2 linked regions of the Homo sapiens genome follow. The protein of the gene in region 1 interacts with the protein of each later gene in a pairwise test. Each region holds a gene or a part of one and is shown on either strand. Other genes may lie near its edges.

Region 1 (3,808 bases):
TAAGCTCATCGGCTGTTGTTAGTGTTAGCGTATTTTATGTGTGGCCCAAGACAATTCTTCCAGTGTGGCCCAGGGAAGGCAAAAGATTGGACACCCCTGCTTTAAAGGCACTATGTGGGTCAAACAGCCAGATTAGTCTGTGACCCATGAAAGGAAGAAGTGTCCTGTCTCCTTTATACAGTTCCCAACAGCCACTCCACCTTGAAAGCTTTGTTCCCTCGTACCTTCCCACTGTCAGGGACAATGGAGGACAAGGAGGAAAGTCAGAGCCTGACGCCTGGCCACCCTGCCCTGAAGCCACATTGCAGAAACAAGGGGACTGGGAAGCCAGGCCCCGCCAGAGCAGGGGCAGGAGGAGTGGACCCTTCTCGTCTCTCCCACTTGGGAGTCACTGGGCTTTTTGCATTTGTGTCTTTGTATCTTTCATCAGTTCTAGACAACTGTCTGCCATTCTAACTTCTAATAATGCCTCTCTCCCATTTTCTTTCTTCTTTTTTTTTGAGCCGGAGTCTCGCTCTGTTGCTAGGCTGGAGTGCAGTGGCACGATCTTGGCTCACTGCAACCTCCACCTCCTGGGTTCAAGCGATTCTCCTGCCTCAGCCTCCCAAGTAGCTGGGGTTACAGGCACGCGCCACCATGCCCAGCTAAGTTTTGTATTTTTAGTAGAGATGGGGTTTCACCATGTTAGCCAGGCTGGTCTTGAACTCCTGACCTTGTGATCTGCCTGCCTTGGCCTCCCTCCCATTTTCTTTCTGGAACTCCAACGAACACGTTAGGCTTTCCATCTCTTGTTTTCTGTCTTTATTTTTTGTTTCTGTAATTCATTCTAGCTATCTTTTGACCTTTTTTCCAATACATGAATTTGCTCTTCAGCTATATCTGCTCTGCTGTTATAAACTTGTCTGCTCAGTTTTGTATGTATGGATTTCTACATATATATAGATATATAACTCATCCTTGTTCCCAGCTAAATTTTTTTTTTTTTTTTTTTGAGATGGAGTCTTGCTCTGTCGCCCAGGCTGGAATGCAGTGGCGCAATCTCAACTCACTGCAACCTCTGCCTCCTGGGTTCAAGGGATTCTCCTGCCTCAGCCTCCTGAGTAGCTGGGACTATAGGTGCCCGCCACCACGCCCAGCTAATTTTTTGTATTTTTAGTAGAGATGGGGTTTCACCTTGTTGGCCAGGATGGTCTCGATCTCCTGACCTCATGATCCACCCACCTCGGCCTCCCAAAGTGCTGGGATTACAGGCGTGAGCCACCGCGCCCGGTCATTTTTTTTTTTTTTAGACAGAGTCTCATTTTGTTGCCCAAGCTGGAGTGCACTGGCACAATCACGGCTCACTGCACCCTCAACCTGTCAGGCTCAAGTGAGCCTCCCACCTCAGCCTCCCTAGTAGTTGGGACTACAGGGGCACACCACTATGCCTAATTTTTTTTGAGACGGAGTTTCACTCTTGTTGCCCAGGCTGGAGTGCAGTGGCACAATCTTCGCTCACTGCAACCTCCACCTTCCAGGATCAAGCGATTCTCCTGGACTCAGCCTCCTGAGTAGCTGGGATTACAGGTGCACACCACCACGGCCAGCTAATTTTTGTATTTTTAGTAAAGACGGGGTTTTACCATGTTGGCCAGGCTGGTCAGGAACTCCTGACCTCAGGTGATCTGCTCGCCTCGGCCTCCTACAGTGCTGGGATTACAGGCGTGAGCCACCAGGCCGCCTGCATTTGCTTGTGTCCGGCCAGGGGATATTCCCATTCTGGGACTCATTTTAAAAACATTCGCTGTCAGGCCAGGCGCAGTGGCTCATGCCTGTAATCCCAGCACTGTGGGGGCCGGGCGCGGTGACTCACGCTGTAATCCCAGCACTGTGGGAGGCCGAGGCAGGCGCATCACGAGGTCAGGAGATCGAAACCATCCTGGCTAACATGGCAAAACCCCGTCTCTACTAAAAATACAAAAAATTAGCTGGGTGTGGTGGTGGGCGCCTGTAGTCTCAGCTACTTGGGAGGCTGAGGCAGAAGAATGGTGTGAACCCGGGAGGTGGAGGTTGCCGTGAGCCAAGATTGAGCCGCTGCACTCCAGCCTGGGTGACAGAGTGAGACTCTGTCTCAAAAAACAAAAAAAAAATCGCTGTCATCAGCTCATCTTTCTCAGCCTCAAAAACCCAATCCCAGGCTCATCCCACCTCCCATCTTGTCCATCTTACTTCTTACAGCTTTGTGACTCTGCCCCCTGAAGCTTCTGGAAGATCTCGGGTGGCAGAAAAGGAGAGAGCTTTCCTCCTTCATCGGAGTATACACGGCGGTGTCGGCCGGCAGGCTGGGGAATGGGAGCAGCTGCAGGCATGGTTGGCTTCAGGCGTGTTTTCCCTGCAAGCCATGGGTAACCAGGGGTCAAGCGGTGGGCCACATCCCACAGAGGAGATGCGGGCTTGGGGGATGCCCCAGGAGAGCCGCCTACTGCAGGAGACCCACCAAGCTTGGCGGCCGTCGACTGGGCCCTCTCCAGACACTGCTGTGCTAGCTTCAGCATCTTGGAGGTGTCGGGGGGCACAGTTTCCCCAGCTTCTGGGGGAGGGACAAGAAGGCTGGTCACAGTCGGCTCTACCACTGTTACTTACTGCTGAGATAAAATGAGGCAACGGAAAAGGCAGGCAAGCCCACTGCCCCCCTCAGCACCCCCACTGACCCCGGGCAAGCCCACTGCCCCCCCATCCCCTCACTGACCCTGGGCAAGCCCACTGCCCCCCCATCCCCTCACCCCGGGTAAGCCCACTGCCCCTCCCGTCCCCCAACTGACTGACCCTAGGCAAGCCCACTGCCCCCCCATCCCCTCACCCCGGGTAAGCCCACTGCCCCTTCCACCCCCCACTGACCCCGGGCAAGCCGACTATTCCTCATGGACCCCAGGCAAGGCCCCTGCCCCCACCATGGACCCCAGGCAAGTCCCCCCACCCACGCATTTCTAATCATCTGCCCTGGTTTTGCCTCCTGAGTCTGCTAAGGCTGTGGGCCCCTCATCGAGGCCCGTCACAGCCTCGACCCTAAACAGGCCTTTAGTGCTCACTCAGCTTCACTTGCAACTGCAGGCCTCTGGGAAGTGGCCGTTTTACAGAGACAAGGACGTGCTGAGGGGATCGCCTCACCCATCTCCCACCGGCTGTGTCCCCAAAGTCCTGCCTTCCCGTAGCTTGGCATGGAGCACCTCTGCGCGACCATGGACCTGCTCACACAGCCCTTCTGCGCGCCGTGGGAGCTGCCTCTCTGTGACTCGCCCCTGGACCCACCGCCCCAGCGCCTGACCCACCTCCCTGCTGCCCTTCACAGAAAACTTCTCATAGACTCCCATTTTCTCATCCCGCCCCGATTTAGCCCCCGACTCCCCCCGGAAACTGCCCTTACCCGTCCCCACCTTGCCAGACACGGTGGGCCACTGGAGTTCCTCTGTCTTCTGGGACTTTGCTCTCCCCAGGGGATCCTCTGCCACTCCTCCACCCAACTCCTCAATCTTGGAGCGCCAGAGCTCAGCCGAGCTCACCGGCTCCCTAGGGAGCTGGGGCAACTGTTAGCTCCCCCTGACCTGTGTGATCCTACGTCCAGTGGCTGCCCCGACCTCTGTGATCCCACGTCCAGGGGCTCCCCCGACCTCTGTGATCCCACGTCCAGTGGCTCCCCCGACCTCTGTGCTCCCACGTCCAGTGGCTCCCCCGACCTCTGTGCTCCCACGTCCAGTGGCTCCCCCGACCTCTGTGCTCCCACGTCCAGTGGGTCCCCCTGACCTCTGTGATCCCACGTCCAGTGGCTCCC
Region 2 (3,808 bases), on another chromosome or scaffold:
TTAAAGAGCCAGGGAGGTGTCTGGGGCTGGGGCACACCCCTGCTTTTGGGCCCTCTGAACATGCCTCTCCCCTGCTTAGCAGACCTCATGGCTCCCACTGAACTGAATTCTACAGTCCTCGCTGTGGCCCCTGCGGGCTGGCCCCTGCATGCCTCTTCATCTTAGCTTGAACCACTCTCCCCTCCAGCCATGAGGCCCTTCCTCTGGGTCTTTGACCTCATGGAGCTGCTTCCCACCTCAGGGCCTTGGGCCGTGCTGTTGCTGTTCCCTCTGCTGAAATGTTTCCCCACCTCCCCCAGGTCAGTTCCACTGTCCTCAGTCATATCCCCCGGGCCTCCTAGGCAGGTTTTCCATCCCGAGCTTTCTCAGTGCCTCATCTCTCTTCCCTTGTGGGACTCTGAACTCCACGACGGAGGGAGCAGTTTCCTCCTGTATGTCACTGTGCACCCAGGACCTAGCACTGAATTGGTTAAGCAATTTGCTGCCTCTGGCTGTGACTTCTGCTCACTGGGGACTCAGTGACCCCAGTCACCTTTCTTTCCCCCGCTCACAGACCCATTCAAACAGCAAGGGAACTAGAGGGACACCAGGCACAGAGAAGGGTCCCAGGCACGCATGGGCCCTGCCAGAAGTTCTTCCTGGGATTCAGCCTCTCTCCCTCTCCACGCAGAATTGGTTTCCAAAGTCCCAATCTAATTTAAAACCTTGGCAGCAAACCTCCAATTGCAGCTGAGAGCCCTTCCCACTCCAAGCTGTTCATACCTGGGGTTGTCCCCGAGCAGTGGCCACAGGCGGTGAGGGCTGCACCAGAGCCTCGGGGCAGGGGCATGACTGCCCTTGCATGCGTCTCCGCCACACAGTTATCACTTCATTCATTTAACAGCCTCATCTGGAGGATCTGCTTGGGGCAGGCCTGGGGCAGAGCATGACCAAGACAGACATAGTCCCCCGCCTGCATGAGGCTGCCAGTCTGTGGGGAGGGGAACAAACGAGTACACAGGTACACAAGTACAGAGAGTGCTGTGACTTGATGAAATGGGTGACACCACAGAGGCAAGTTGGGGGACCACCTGCGGGGGTGACATTGGGCATGATGTCTGGTGAGTGAGGAGGGGAATGGGGTGAGAGGATCCAGGCCTTAGACAGGGAAGGTGCCACTTCCCGCCACATAACTTGGCTTGCGGTCGGTGGCTGTGTGGAGGAAGGAGAAGAACGGGAAAAGAGAAGAGGTCGTGGGGGCCTTATCACATTGGAGCCGCCCGTGGTTCTGGCTGGATCCTGTCCCGAAAAAATGGGAAGCCATTGGAAGGCTTCTGTTTGAGAGGTGGCATGACAAAAAGACCACCCTGCTTTGTGGGGTTGGGTGGTGTGGGTGAGGAGAGGACGGGGGAAGCAGGCGCCGCCCCTGGATTGTCCAGGAGAAAGATGACGGTGGCTTGAACTAGGGTGGTGGCAGCAGATGGAGCCCAGTGGATGGGTTCCAGGCTGCATTGGAGGGGGCACCACAGGCCTTGTGGGTCATCCTGGAGGAATGGGCGACAGAGGATTCTCAGGTGGAGGGGGTGCCATTTCTGGAGACAGGAAAACCTGGCACGGGGGAGGTTTGACAGGGGGACAAGAGCCACAGCCATTAGACATCCAAGTGTGGACGGTTGGAAATGTGAGTCTGGAGCTCGGGTGAAATCTGCATAAATACAAACTTGGGTTCTGTCGTATATATTTGGGAGAGCGTGTGGATGGAGCTGGGCCCCCATGAGTTGGTGTTGGATAGGAAGGGGAAACGGTGAAGGAAATTGGAAAGGAACAGCCCAGGAGATGGGAGGAAAACTAGCAGATGGTGAAAGATAGACAGAAATGTGCCCATGCGCTTGGCAGCGGGTAGGTTGGTGGTTGCAGCACCTTGAGCAGTTTCAGAGAGGTATGGCGATGGAGCCAGGTTAGAGTGGCTTGAGAAAAGAAGTCGGGGTGTGGACATGTAGACAGTCCAGAAGTTTCCTGTGGCAGAGGGGACATGCGGCCAAGCCCTAGGGAGGCTGGCACATGGTTCACATCCCTCAGCCCTGCCTCCTTCTCACACTTGGGCCAGGCCACGTGATTTCTGCAGCCAAGGAGGCTGACCTTACCGAGCCCTCGCATGGGCTGGGCGCTGACCTGAGTGATCTTACTGAGCCCTCCTCACAAGCTTATGTGGCAGGAACTGTCACTCCATTTTATTAGAGGAGTCGTCTGAGGCTCTAGGGACTGAGGTGGCTTTCCAAGGTCACAGCCAGGAAATGGCAAGATCCCCCTACTCATCCCTTTGTCTGGTCAGCTCTGGGGGCCCCATTGCCTGCAGACTGAGGCTGGGCTTTGGGCTGACACTGCCTTTCCCTGGGAAGGGGCTGAGCTGACGGTGCCCCGCATCTCCCCCTTCTTTCCCACAGCGGTTCCTCAGTGACTATGGCCTGCAGTGGGTGGGCGAGCCCATGGACCAGGAGGACTCAGAGAGCAAGACAGTCTCAGAGCATGGCGAGAGGGACTGGATGACAGCCAAGAAGTTCTGGAAGCCAGGTAGAGCAGGGCGTCTGCCCCAGGCCCTCTTCAAAAGGAATTCTCCAACAGTTTGCTGTTGGCCGGCAGCTCCCCAGAGGCCTATCTCATTCGTGCCCGGGTCCCTGACCCAAGACGCCCTGAGAGCCCACAACTTGCCCCTGAGACAATGTGGGAGCAGCCTTGGCCTCCATCACTGACCACTTAACCTGCTGGCCCACTTCTCCACGGTCCTACCTCTGCTCTCTCTTGCTCATCTGTCAGAGACCCAGAGATACAAGAGGTAGCAAGGCCTTATTTGCCTCAGGTCACATAGTCTACAAAACGCCACCAATCTGGAAGATGTTGCCGTTTTAAAAAAAGGCAATCCTTCTGTTCTAGAAGCTGCTGCCAAATTCCCAGGTTTGGCCTCCCTCTCCAGGTTTGCTTATGGCCCTTGGAATCCACCTGGTTCTGTGGGCCCCTACCATGTCTTTTTTTTTTTTTTTTTTTTTTTTTTTTGAGACGGAGTCTTGCTCTGTCACCCAGGCTGGAGTGCAGTGGCACGATTTGGCTCATTGCAACCTCTGCCTCCCAGGTTCAAGCAATTCTCCTGCCTCAGCCTCCTGAGTAGCTAGGATTACAAGTGTGTGCCAACACACCCAGCTAATTTTTGTATTTTTAGTAAAGACGGGGTTTTACCATGTTGGCCAGGCTGGTCTTGAACTCCTGACCTCGTGATCTGCCCACCTTGGCCTCCCAAAGTGCTGGGATTACAGGTGTGAGCCACCACGCCTGGCCTACCATGTCTTATTTTTAACTTCTAATATCTAGAGGGATTCCTCCCACAGTCCCCTCCTATAGACCCACAGATTTGGGTCCATAAAACTGGCCATTTCTGAAAACCAGGCCCATTCTCTTCAAAGAATGGAGATTGTCACCCAAAAGATGCTTCTCCAGGCTCTAGAGTCAGGCACACCTGGGCCCTCAACTCGACTCTACCTCCTATCCCAAGTGTGACTTGGGCAGATGACCTCTATTCACTTCATCAACAAAACAGGAGTGTTCTTCCCTGGGAGTTACAAGGAGCAAATGAGTTAAACGCAGAGCGCCTAGCTCTGGCCTTGCAGCCATTGTTGTTTCCAAAGTCTGAGGGCAGGGGTCCCACGGGAATAGGAGCACAGCTTCCAAGGGGCCCATTTGGAAGATGACGACACCTTCTTGGTTTCCTGCTAGGTAAAAACCCAGATTCCAAACATGAGAATCCTGCCTCCTGTTTAGGCCTGGGCTCTGGCTGGAT

Evidence for each region.
Region 2: the proteins of VPS9D1 (region 1) and UBXN11 interact in binary tests that used the Homo sapiens proteins (3 or more experiments, as listed by UniProt).

What each region holds. Positions count from the first base shown.
Region 1 is NC_000016.10:89,714,254-89,718,061, forward strand, and holds part of VPS9D1 (VPS9 domain-containing protein 1), read right to left. Parts: exon of another isoform or gene 3,091-3,808; intron 2,652-3,090; exon of another isoform or gene 2,570-2,651; coding exon 2,477-2,569; exon of another isoform or gene 2,372-2,476; coding exon 2,209-2,371; intron 1-2,208.
Region 2 is NC_000001.11:26,292,947-26,296,754, reverse strand, and holds part of UBXN11 (UBX domain-containing protein 11), read left to right. Parts: intron 1-2,423; coding exon 2,424-2,550; intron 2,551-3,808. UniProt on the Homo sapiens protein: May be involved in the reorganization of actin cytoskeleton mediated by RND1, RND2 and RND3. Promotes RHOA activation mediated by GNA12 and GNA13.